2 linked regions of the Homo sapiens genome follow. The protein of the gene in region 1 interacts with the protein of each later gene in a biochemical or structural test. Each region holds a gene or a part of one and is shown on either strand. Other genes may lie near its edges. The genes, in order: KCNE4 and KCND2.

Evidence for each region.
Region 2: the proteins of KCNE4 (region 1) and KCND2 form a complex in vitro, tested with the Homo sapiens proteins (one study listed by BioGRID).

Annotation. Positions count from the first base shown.
Region 1 is NC_000002.12:223,048,051-223,055,258, reverse strand, and holds the start of KCNE4 (potassium voltage-gated channel subfamily E member 4), read right to left. Parts: upstream 3,070-7,208; 5' UTR 2,985-3,069; intron 2,452-2,984; 5' UTR 2,429-2,451; coding exon 1,916-2,428; 3' UTR 1-1,915. UniProt on the Homo sapiens protein: Ancillary protein that functions as a regulatory subunit of the voltage-gated potassium (Kv) channel complex composed of pore-forming and potassium-conducting alpha subunits and of regulatory beta subunits.
Region 2 is NC_000007.14:120,744,998-120,750,880, forward strand, and holds the end of KCND2 (A-type voltage-gated potassium channel KCND2), read left to right. Parts: intron 1-782; coding exon 783-1,030; intron 1,031-2,683; coding exon 2,684-2,861; 3' UTR 2,862-5,340; downstream 5,341-5,883. UniProt on the Homo sapiens protein: Voltage-gated potassium channel that mediates transmembrane potassium transport in excitable membranes, primarily in the brain. Mediates the major part of the dendritic A-type current I(SA) in brain neurons.

The sequences.
Region 1 (7,208 bases):
TGATAAACCAGCTCCTACACTGTTAACCCTTCCATGGCAACAGTAGTTATTGCTGTGTCTCCAATCCATGCAGAGCATTTTTCTTTAAAAAAAAAAAAAGTGGCCGGGTGCAGTGGCTCATGCCTGTAATCCCAGCACTTTGGGAGGCCGAGGTGGGAGGATCATTTAAGGCCAGGAGTTTGAGACCAGCCTGGCCAAAATGGCGAAACCCCATCTCTACTAAAAATCAAAAAATTAGCTGGGCGTGGTGGCAGGCGCCTGTAATCCCAGCTACTCAGGAGGCTGAGGCAGGAGAATCGCTGAAACCCAGGAGGTGGAGGTTGCAGTGAGCCAAGATTGCACCACTGCACTCCAGCCTGGGCAACAGAGCGAGATTCTGTCTTAAAAATAAAAAATAATAATAAATAAATAATTTTTTTAAAAGTTTTTTTAAATAGATTTAAATTTGACCTTTTACTTCCTCCTTGTCTTTAAGGGCCTAACGGATCTGCGAAACTGTTGACCACAGGAATACTTGGAGACATTGGAAGCATTCCTGTGTGTTTTCCTTTAGACTTTGCTTTCCCTTAGCTGGGAGTGTTAACATCACACATTCTCCAGAGAACTTTGCAGAGGAGAATGTGGTGTCTGCCTCTTTCCTTCAGTCCTGGGAAAACTACAGCAGGGCTGGGTTGGTAGCTTGCCCTGAATTCCCCAGTTATATGTGTTCTGAATCTCCAACTGCTCCTTTAAATCAGCAGATCCTTGTTCAGACTAACCGGCCAAAGGGGAAGCATTTGGTCCAAGCTTCCTCACACCAGGCTGTGGAATATTTATCACAGAGTCCTAAAATCTAAAGACATCCTCCCAACCCCCTGGGGATGGAGATCGTCGGGAGCCTCATGCAGACAGCGAGCTTCTTGATGACATGCCCGGGACCACACAGCAAATGAGTGTCAGGGCTCGGGATCAGGAAGCACAGAACTTGGAGCCCAGCTTTGTGCAATCTCCGCCTGAGTATGCCCTTCTAGGTCTCAGCTACGTGACGAAATACCACATTATGTCCTCTCCCAGCTCAGAAAACTAGGCTGGGAAACTGAGCAGCAGCAGAGCTAACGGCTTGGCCTTGTTCAACCCCACTTTACCCCTTCTAGAAAGATCAGGAAGAGTCTCCTGAACCACCATCGGGAGTGCAGGTTAGATTCTGGGGAAGCTCTTCTGATCCAAAGAACGTCATGCCATCATGTGATGCTGCATGGTCACAGGTCAGAGTTCAAGGTCATAAGTTAGACAAAAGGTCAAAATAGAAGATCATCTCTTATAACCCCGGCCAATGTTAACAGGTTTAAAAGTTACTTTTTTTTCTTATAGTGTGCAAATGGGCTGGGTTCAGATCTCCAGCTTTCTCCCATCAAAAATCCCCCTCTAATCCAAAAGAAGCTTGTAACCCACTGTGAAGGAATGCCACAGGTACACAGTAGAGATACTTACAGCCAATCAGATCTAGAAGGACAAAGCTCTAGGCAAAATAGCAAATCACAACTAGTCTCTCAGCGTGTCCTAAGCATTCGGCAGCCCTGGGAACAGGCAGACCCTGCAGGAGCTACCCAGGGCATCCAGTGAGAAAATGGCAAACATATCATCCCGCCAAATTCTGATCAGAACCCCAACACCCAGGCCCCAAAGTCAGTGTACGCGCTGCGCATCTCCGCGGCTTTTTCAGTGGTGGGTGCAAACCACAGGCACCTCCCGGACTCCTTGGAGGTGCTGGTTCCGGCTGAGCCTAGTCCCCCACCCCACCCCGAATCAGGGGTTTACCAAGGGTCTCTTCAAAGTGGCAGCCGCACTGTGAAAGTGAAACCAGACACTTGAAAACTGTCTTTCCTCTCTCTAAGGTTGCTGGCTGATGGAGCCACCGGCAGGGGTCCCGGGGGTGCTAGGAATTCTGATGGATGTTCTCCGAGGACCCTTCGCTGCTCTCGTTGAGGGGCGTCTCCGAGGTCTCCTCCAGCTCATCGTCTGCCCCCTCCTCCTGAATGGTGAGGTGCACGTCCGGGGAGGAGGACTCGGAGCTCACGCTGTCCCCTTCCATGGAACAGAGGGTGCAGGACAGCGCGGGCGCCACGCTCTCCTGCAGCATGTTCAGCATCAGGGGCACCTGCACCGACCTCAGGCCCGACACCACAGGCAGCGGCTTCATGGCCTCCCCCCAGAGCCGCTCCTCGTCTTTGTACAGCAGCAGGAGGCTGGACTTCTTCTCCCGCCTCTTGGATTTCATGTAGCCCAGCATGATTCCGATCAAGAAAATGCCGTAGAAGGACATGACAACCAGAATGTAGAAGTACTCGTTGCCATTGCCGCTGCCGCCGCCGGCCGCACGGGACTCCAGGGGGCTGCTGGAGGCGGCGGTGCCGGGGTGCGTGCTGTTCAGAGGCTCCATTTTCAGCATTGAGGCTGCCTCCACAGCAGGGGCTGGGGAAAAAGCCGCAGGTTAGAACTCTCCCCCAGGTCCTGGGCACAGGGAGGTGGGGGAGCACGAGGTTTGTGGAACTGCAATACCAAAAAAGCTTAAAAGTGCATGAAAGAAATAGCATAAGAGGGTTCGCCAAACAGCTGACAAGAGTGAGCTATGAGGGCTTGGAGTGCACGGGAGAGAAGCCCGGGAAGGTTCACTGGGAAAAGTAAGAAGGACTTTTTTTTTTTTTTTTAGTGTACACATTTGTCCTGTTTGTAGTGAGCAGTATTACTTTGATTAAAAAAAAAATCAATGTAAGACAGGAGCATACAGTAAATAGTATCTTTAAAACTGGGAAACGTATTTTAACTGAGCAGAAACAAAGTTTACATTGTGTTTCCAAAACCAAACTATTTTAAATTCAAAACAATGTTTCCTTAGAACAAAGAAAAGCAGGAAGAAAATAAAGGAAAAAAATTCATCTATTAATTGGCAAAAATGTCCCTCTTTCAAATGTTTCTGAAAGCAAAGTGTAGCCTTGCTGACTTACCAAGGCTGACAGTTTGTCCCAAGTTTTGAATTCCCAAATCGTCCAGTCCAAGAGGGTTCTTCTGCTCTGTCCGGCTCTGCGCTCTGACAACTCCGCTGCTGCAGTTGGGATATATAGTCAAGAAGTGCATCGTCACGTGCTCTGGGAGGAAAATTTACAACAGAGATTGATCGTGGCAGAGTGAGCAGTGAACTGAAAGCACTGCAGTTCAACTCCCTGAACTTTGCAGCTGTGAAAAGTGAAAAAGACTGGGAAGTGGGAACTGCTCCTCAAGCCCCAGCACCCGGCCAGGGTTTTCAGGTAGCGGTGACGATGAGTGAAAAGAGGAGAAAGGGATGTGCTGTGCTGGAACCGTTACCCCAAAGTCCGCGCTCACTGAAAATTAGCTCATGCTTCGCGCGGCTCCTGGGGAATAACCATTATTGGGCTACAGGTTTTCAGAGGCAGCTGAATCCCATAATCTGGATGAAAGACAGTTGGAAGCAAGTGCGGGATTTACAGTCAAGGAACTGGGGCTTCGGTTTCAGTTCTTCCACTCCTTATGCAAATAAGATAAATCCTTCCTTAACCTCTCCGCACCTCACATTCCTCGTCTGTAAAATCGTTGTGCCTGGCGGGGGGGGGGGTCTTCTGCAGGTAGGATTATATAAACCACGTGACCTTTTGAGACCCTTTCAGCTTAACCCTTCTAAGATTGAAGGCTGCCTGGTGTTGCTTAGCCCTCTAAAAGCAGAGATTCTAGCTGCCTTCCACATCAAGGTCACAAACCTATGTTTATAATAATTTTTTTTTAAAAGCTCCCACATTCTTTTCAGTGGTCTGCATTAAGTGGAAACATGTTGTCGTAAAAGATACTATGGGCAGGTTTTGTTCCGTCCTGCCATACACAGCTGCTCCTCTGAAGCCTCATGCGGAGGCTATTGACACGTCTCTTTGCTGTCTCTCGTAGGTCAGGGGAGGAGCAGGACTATTTCAGAGTGCAACTAAGCACAGTTCAAGTTTTTTAAACCTCGGTAGACCCTGTGTTTAAATGGCTGCTGTGATCAAAATTGGAAGAGGAATTGCAGGCTTTAATGTCAGTCTCTCTGCTCCCTGGGCTGCTTATTCTGAGGCTTTCATGCTAAGTGGAAGGAAACTGGGAGAGATCCACTCCCTCCAGTTGTCTGTGGCCTGTGGATTGCAGCCAGACTGTCTTGTGGGCCAACTCTAAAGGAAACATCTCTCATGGTTCTGCTGTAGTCAAACTGACGCATGCGACATCCACCTGACCTGCTTGAACATATATAGCTTAGGCACTGGAATTTTCACTGCTGCTACAGGAACCCCCCTGGGTTTGCACCTGATCCTGATTCTAAGAAGACACCTGGAGGAAGAATAGGAAGATGAACTGAATGCTGCCATTTTTCCCACTTGACTACTCACCTGTGTTCATCCATAAATCCCCAGCTGGCACTGGAGGTACCAACCATCGACCACTCCAGCATCACGATCATCCATACAGTGGAACTGTGCTCACACCAGTAAAGATACCCTCACCATTGTGTTAATACGTAAAACCCTCCATAGCTACCTCAGCCATGGTAGACTTGGTCTTTTCAACAGGTGTCCATCATAAACACTAGAACACTTCCATCTATATCTAAGCCTACACTGGAATGTCTGGGACACTAGAACAAGATGGGCCCAAGAAAGAGATGCCTGTTGATTGTTGACCCTGGTATTTTTTATTGTATACCTTAGGACATACGAGATTGGTCATCATCCAGGGATTGTCCAACACCAAAGACTGGAAGCTTTGAGTAGGCAGAAAGGAGGTGGGGATAGGAGTTACCAGATTCAAGGAGCAGGAAGTACAAAGCCTGGTGCCAGGAAGCCAAACAGAGGCTGAAGTTTTAAACATAATAAATCCCCAAACCTGAGCCAACAGTCCCAAGGGAATACAACCAAGAAAAGAGATGAGTGTGGGGAAACATCGAGAATGAATTCCAAAGGACGAAGCAAGTCAGAGCCAAAGGAAAAGCAGGACTAATTGCAGGAGTCAGGGAAGGAACAGCCCAGAAGAAATTCTGGGGTGCCTGCTTGGAGTCCCTGCTGCCCCGATTCCCACATACTTCCTGCATGGATATTTCTACTAGAGTTAAACGAGGCCAACTGCAGTGTCTTAGTTCAGTAATCCCAATGCTTGAAGAGGCTGAGGTGGATGAATCACTTGAACCCAGGTGTTTGAGACCAGCGTGGGCAACACAGTGAGACCCCATCTCTACAAAAAAATACAAAAATTAACTAGGCCTGGTGGCGAGTGCCTGTAGTCCCAGCTACTTGGGAGGCTGGGGTGGGAGGATCACTCGAGACCAGGAGTTCAAGGCTGCAATGAGGTCTGAACATGCCACTACACTCCAGCCTGGGTGACAGAGCGAGATCTCTAAATAAATAGAATAGAATAGAATAGAATAGAATAGAATAGAACAGAACAGAATAAAATAGTTCAATGAAATGATGCAAAGAAAGCACCATGTCTGGCCAAATGCACATGCTCAGTGCCTGTGTTTAGTTGTCATTGTTAGGAGTACGCTGTTGCTCCCAAGGGCTTCAGGTTGCCTCCTGTCATGTGTGTGCCCATCTCCAGACTTTTAACTCCAGACTTTTTATCACTGCTCCTTCCCCTGTCTGTCACTCCCAGGAATGGAATTTAAGAGAAGGGAATTCCAACTTCAAAATGCATAGCTCAATCTTCTTCCCAGCCCTCACTCATGACAGGGATTGCGAGAATGATGGCACTGAATAATGGCATAAAGAATGAGGGAGAGAGGGTACATCTAGAAAGTGCACTCTGTCGGGAGAGGATGGGACTGCACAAGAATTATTAATTATATCTACCCCGGGCCTCAGTTTTAGGAGACAGCAATGTTAAAGAAATAAATCAATTTCGGCTAGCATTTCCATTTCCTGAACAGTGTCTTTTCAGGAGCAAACATATCTAATTCTGATGAAGTCCAATTTATTTTAAATGTTTTTGGTTGTGCTGTTTGAATCCTATCAAAGAAATATTTGCTTAACCCAGTCATGAGGATTTTCTCCTGTTTTGCTTCTAGAAGTTTTATGGTTTCAGCCTTACATTTAGGTCTATGATACATTTCAAGTTAATTTTAGTCTAAAATGTAAGATATAGGTCAAGGATTTTGGGGAGGGGTTGTTTGTTTTTGTTTTGCTTATGGATGTCCAATTGCTCCAGCATCATTTGTTGAAAAGACTCCTTTTCCTATTTAAAATTATCTTGGAAACTTTGTTGAAAATCAATTAACCTTATATAAGCAGGTCTATTTCTTAACTCTTCATTCTGTTCCTTTGATCTATCTGTCTATCTTTGCATCGATATTATTCTGTTTTGATAAATCCATTTTAAACTTGTATTTTAAATGAGTCTAAGATACACTGCAGTTCAAATCTAGCTTAGTGTCTATCATATACCAAGTACACATAAGTCCTGTGAGGTCAGGTATTATTACAACCATTTCATAGATAAGGAAACTGAAAGTCAAAGAGTCAAAGAGGCAAAGTTGCTCCAGGTCAAATCACTAGCAGTACAGTCAGTACTTGACCCCAGATCTATGCAACTCCAAAACCCATTCTTTTTCCACTACCTTTTGTCTCACTGAATGGAAAACAAAAAGAAACTGAGAAAGAGTAGGAAGTGAAAGATGGACATTTTTCCAACTTCTTTTGAGTCTTCATAAAACTTTTTTTTTAAAAAAAATGTGAATTCTGACATAACTAGATACTCACACATAAATACACACGTGGAACTACAAGTTGTCTTTTTCTGAATTCATATTATTTTAAGTACTGGAGGCTGCACCAACCTCAGCATGTTCTAGAAGTTATCAGTGAAGCAGTAATACTCTTACCGTATACCTATGTTGTCCATAGTACAGTAGTTTCTCTGCCTACATATACAGCCTGATATGGTTTGGCTCTGTGTCCCCACCCAAATCTCACCTCGAATTGTAATCCTCACGTGTCAAAGGTGGGACCAGGTGGAGGTAATTGAATCATGGGGGCTGTTTCCCCCATGCTGCTCTCATGATAGTGACTGAGTCTCACGAGACCTGATGGTTTTATAAGCGTCTGGCATTTCCTTTGCTTGCACGCACTCCATCCTGCCACCCTGTAAAGAAGGTACCTGCTTCTCCTTTGCCTTCCGCCATGACTGTAAGTTTCCTGAGG
Region 2 (5,883 bases), on another chromosome or scaffold:
ATGCCTATTGCTATTTGCTACTGGGCTGGAAGTTAGGAAATAGTGACGGAAAAACCCCAAATGCATACAGAGATCATGAGTACAGCCAGTGATGCCAGTGATGTATTACGAAGATTACAAAAAAGGCCACAAAAGTTCAATGCTAATCCCTTCTGGGTCGAACACAGAGTGACACATTCGGCAGACAATTATATTTTACTTATGTAACGAATAAGTCATATTTTTCTGTACTGGGCATTTTTAGAGGAACATATAAAGAAATGGATAGTGTCTTAGGGGTCTCATTTTCTAATTTAGAAATGTTTTCACTCCCATGTGAAAAGATTTGCTAATATATAACAGACAATCTAACTTGGGGCATCCTATTAAAATAATCTATTTTCCATAACTTCAACCTTTTTAAAAAATAAAGTCAGTGGGAATTTCTAATTTCCCTGTGGGTTTTATCTATATGCATTTTTTAGGTTTTTTTTTTCCTTATCATATACCTTCCAGATTTTATGTTTAAATAAATAAATGATATTTCAAGATAAAGTTAGTCTATAAAGGGACACTAAATCAGCCTACAGATGTCAATCTCTAGGTTTAACTACAGAGATAGTTCCACATAAATGCCAAAAAGAAGTGGTTTTGATGTCAATCTTTATGAAAATGGTTTTATTTAACCATTGTATCAAGTCTAACTATACTTGGGCAGATTTGAGCTTTAAAAATAAAGCTATGTATTTCGTTTTTAAAAATGTGCTTCTCTGTTTCTTCATTTACTTACAACTGTGGAACAGAATCACGAGTTTGTGGACGAACAAGTCTTTGAAGAAAGCTGCATGGAAGTTGCAACTGTTAATCGTCCTTCAAGTCACAGTCCTTCACTGTCTTCACAACAAGGAGTCACCAGCACCTGCTGTTCACGACGACACAAAAAAACTTTTCGCATCCCAAATGCCAATGTATCAGGAAGCCATCAAGGTAGTATACAAGAACTCAGCACGATTCAGATCAGATGTGTGGAGAGAACACCTCTGTCTAACAGGTACCTGAGATTAATCTGTGTTGTCTACACACCTGTGCTGGTTCCCAGGGTGTGTCTTCTGCACTCATGTTGTCACTTACATGGCATCTAAATCCCTAGCTCCTATGGTTCAGGAAGAGACAAAAATGGTAGCGTAACAAGTAGGAAAATGGTTCTGCTTGCATATCCATTAAGGGTTAAAAATAGTGGTTATATCAGTATTAAAAGAGTCGAAAGAAGAAGAGATGATTGAGTGCACACAAATGTGTTTTTCTCTCTTCTGTTCCACAACCTTTTCTTATTTGGGCAAGGACTTTTATACTCAGGAGTCTCTTATATATTCAATAGTCTGAAATGATGGTGGACACTACTAAAAGAGTCAAATGAAATTGAGATCAACATGGCTAAAAATTATTGAACAGCATGTAAAAATATACAAACACACTGTCTGTAACAGTAAAAATGAAAACTTTGCCTACATAAGTCATTTCTATCAATATATAATTTTGATCAGAAAGGTATTTTTGGCCATATCAAACACAAAATCAACATAATACAAAAAATAAGTGAAGTACTAAAATTGTTTGCCTCTGGTTAGTTTATGAACAAATTAAGTAAAACTTCCATATTGATATATTTCCTTTGCTTTTCCTTATTCACTGTTTTTACCACAAATGTGTAAAAATAAAAAGTTGTACATTTAAACAATATATGTCATTAAAAATCAGTTTCTGCCAAAATAATTTTATTCTGTTTTCAAATTGAACAGCATATATTGTTAGAGTGAGAGTCTGTAAATTCAGTCCTCTTCTTTGTTGGCATTCAGAAGTCTTTGTTGAAATCTGGATGAGATTCTGAATTCAGGTGATGTTGATTTACATAAATTGGATGTCTCTGGGACTAGAAAATTAAAATTAGGAGCCATAAGACTTCTATCTTCAAGATATTTTAGCTTTGCAGTTTTATATCCTTTATAAAGTGAAGTCGACAATGGAAAATTATCTAGCAAGAAAATCTTAGGACATAAACATCTTAATTATGTTTTCCATGAAAATAAAATAATCAGTTTCAAGCTTCTGTGTATATCCTTCTCTCTCATTTCCCTTTTATCCCCTTCCCCACATAGAGTATACAATTCATCCAATAATACCATTTGGGAGCTTGAAGTGTTAGATAGTAATAGATAATTTTTTTATTTCTGTAATATGTGATCATCATTAAGTTCAGAGGTTTGAGGGCATTATATATCCCAAAAAGACATGAAAATAAAAATATTCTGTGGTCAAAGGAATTAAGAAATCAATGTGATATGGCTCTTTCATAGTGGTTTCTCAAACCTCTCAGAGGTCTGTCTTAAATAAAACTTCTTTGCTCAGCCCAGGCTGTCCAAATCTTACTTGAAGCTCTTTCTTTCTTACATTTTTTTATAATACATTTAGTTTGATAAATACTTGATGGAACCAAGTCAAACTGTCTTTTAGAAATTTATTTAATGTTAATTACTATGTTCATCTTTAACATAGATTAAGATTTGGTGTTTCATATTTTTAATTATAATAACTTTCCTTAGACAATTAAAATATTTTTATAAGCATTACAACACATATTCTTCAGTTGTATGAAAAACATTTTAAGTAAACAACTTACTTTCCTAAATATTTTTTTTTCTATCAGCCGATCCAGTTTAAATGCCAAAATGGAAGAGTGTGTTAAACTAAACTGTGAACAACCTTATGTGACTACAGCAATAATAAGCATCCCAACACCTCCAGTAACCACACCAGAAGGAGACGATAGGCCAGAATCCCCTGAGTACTCAGGAGGAAATATTGTCAGAGTTTCTGCTTTGTAAGACAATTGGAATAAGGTCTAAGAGAATTCGAGCCCTGGCTGTGAAAAGAATCTCAACATAGAAGAAAGAAGAAACAATAAATATTCTGCAGATTAATGCAGCAAAGAAAGAAGGTTGGTAGTGAAACACAAAGCTTCCAATCTTAAGGATGTGAATAAAACCACCAAATGGCATTTCTAGACAGTTTGACCTGTTATACAGAGTAATATTCTGTGGCCCTTTGACTTTGTGAATGAGCACAATGAAATGCCGCCTACTGATGCTTCTTATGATCAGAACTCTTTTTTAATAAAATAAATAACATAAATCGTTGAACATAATGTTCCAGTTGAATGCAAAACAAAAAAAATATGGAAAACATTTTGATAAAATTTTTTCCTGTTAAAACCATGAACATTGGCTATGATGAAGATTATTACATATGAAAAAAAAACTCACACAACATATTTGTATTGACTGAAGGAAACCATCATAATGCATGCTAGAATTCTTTGAAGCAGTGATCTCAGTTTCCTTATGTTGTCTTCAGAATAGGCATGATAAACTATAATTGTAGAAAGGGGTAATTTCTGTGCACTTACAACAAGCTGAGTGTTCATGTTCCATGGTGGGCTGTGCAAATAAACTCCTTTTAGACCTGCAGTATTTCTCATGGGGATGCTCATTAGTAAATCTAAAGTGTTCAGATAGTTCAGTATTCATTATCGTTTAACTTTGCACCTAGATACTGTTACAACTGCAATAATTTGTTGTACAACTGTTGTATCAGGAATCAGGATTTTTTTGTTGTTGTACTTTCCAGATCCTTATAGATACGGTAAGAGCCACATTCGTAGAAAAACTTCTGGTGTGGCCAGGTTTTAGGTAACTTTTTAATCCAAAACTATTGTGCCATAAATGTTTTTCAGTAATATTTTTTGGTCCACTGTATTCCTGTGACACAGTGCATTATCTGTTCTTGTATTTCTATAGCACCTCTCTATTGGGTTTATCATCATCAACAAGACTACTGTTTACTGTAGTTCAAGTGACTTTCCTACTTTTGTATTTCCAAAAAAAATTATCTTGTAAGTAGCTTGTCATCAATCCCCTTGTCGAAAACTAGAAAAAAAGGAGTTGACCCATATAAATTATCTCTAACGTCTTTGTTGTTTATGGAAAAGCCCAGATACTGGATATATCACTATGTATTTTATGAACAGAATTGACTGGGACTAATATCACAGGATCAATCATCTCAGAATCTTACTTGATGCATTATTTATTTTGCTTTAGATCTTGAATACATTTTGAGAATAACTAATGTGGATTGAAATGTAGAGATACACTGGAGTGCTTTATTTAGCAATATTTGATGAAAGCATGCTTTCTACGCCATTCAGGAAGGCAGCACAAATTTATCTCAGAAAGGTTCCTGTGTATTGCAAGGTACAATTTTCTCCAATAAATCAGGAGAACAGGAGTTTGATGATGCAAAGTTGATCTCTGTACATTTAAGTGAAAAGTCTTTATAACTTTTCACCCTTAAAATATTTCAGCAGACATGTCTGCACATGACAGTGTAAAAAAGTTTAATGTCAAATGCAAAGTTTTTATTCATTCCAAGCCACCACTGTAAGGAATAAAGCTTAGCTTCTGTACATGGAAAGAGCTAATAATTATCCCTCTGTCAGAGATGAGATTTTTAAATGCTTATGATATTTAATCATAAAAAGGGATTAATCCAACCATTTTCTAGTAAAGCCAGAAATTCTTGCTTCCCATTTCTAGAATAGTTTCTAGAACAGTGCTATGCACATATTAGATCTTAATAAACATTTGCTGAGTGAAAGTAAGATAAACTCAACTATCTCTTGGGAAGAACTGGCTTCATTCCTAGTACATCTTTTAAAAAGTTACTAATTTTCCAGCAGTACAAATATTAACAATTATATTAACACCTGCCTCATGTCAGTTTATGCTTCTAGAGCAATGTCTAGTGAAACTTATCTGATGGCATTTATTGAAAACCTTCTAAAAAGTAGACTAAGGAAACCATAATCAGAATTACTATGTCTTTTGATTCCCAATGAGAAGTTCTATTTTCATGTTCTTAATATTACATACAAGAAAATGCAGTTAGGTTATTTCAATTGACAATTCTGCCTCCTCTTTTGATTTATCACTTACCCAAAATTATTAATTTTATTAGGCTTTTGGAAAAGAAAAAAAACTTTTTGATGTTTTAGGTGATTTAAAAATATACCGTGTTGGTGGTGAATGACTATTGATGACTGTGTTAAGTGCATCTGTATTGTAAGTGAAATGTAATTATTTCTGTGTACCATATGGAGTAACTAAGGTCATTGTTTTTGACAATTTTGTTTGAAATTCATATATCTTATTTCAAAGGATAGCATAATATCTGCATTATGCTGGAAAAAAATAGACCTTTGGAGAATACTTAAATAAAACATGTGCATGCTTGAACAGGACAAAATGTTGACTGTTGCCCTATTTTCTTAGATTTCATTCCTTTCCCAAAATTAGGATATGCCACACTCATAATACACATGTTGGAGGACCTTGTGAGACATACAACTCAAAGGACACAGCAATTGAAAGTAATGCTTAAATCTCATCTGAATGGGTGGAGACAGTAGCTTTTGCTAGTAATGGGAATTAAGGCAGGGACTTTAACAGAAAAGATAGTATCAATTAAGGAAAGCCAGTCCCTGAACCTTATATACTTCTTAAACACCACTACTTGCATTAAGCAGAGAAGCTCAGGGGTAATGGTTTTGGTCAGAACTTAAATAAATTCTTAATCAAAGGCTTTATTCTACCTAGGAAAGCGGGGTGATTTATTTGCCTAGCCATTTGTGTGCATGTATGTGTATATGTAGATATAAATTTGTTCATACACATATACATAGATTTTCATTCATTTTTAATATGCAACCACTAATGGTTTCTCTTAATATCTTGAAAGGGCTAAAAAGCAAGAAAATGTTAAGAGTTTATAGAAGAAGGAAAAAGACAC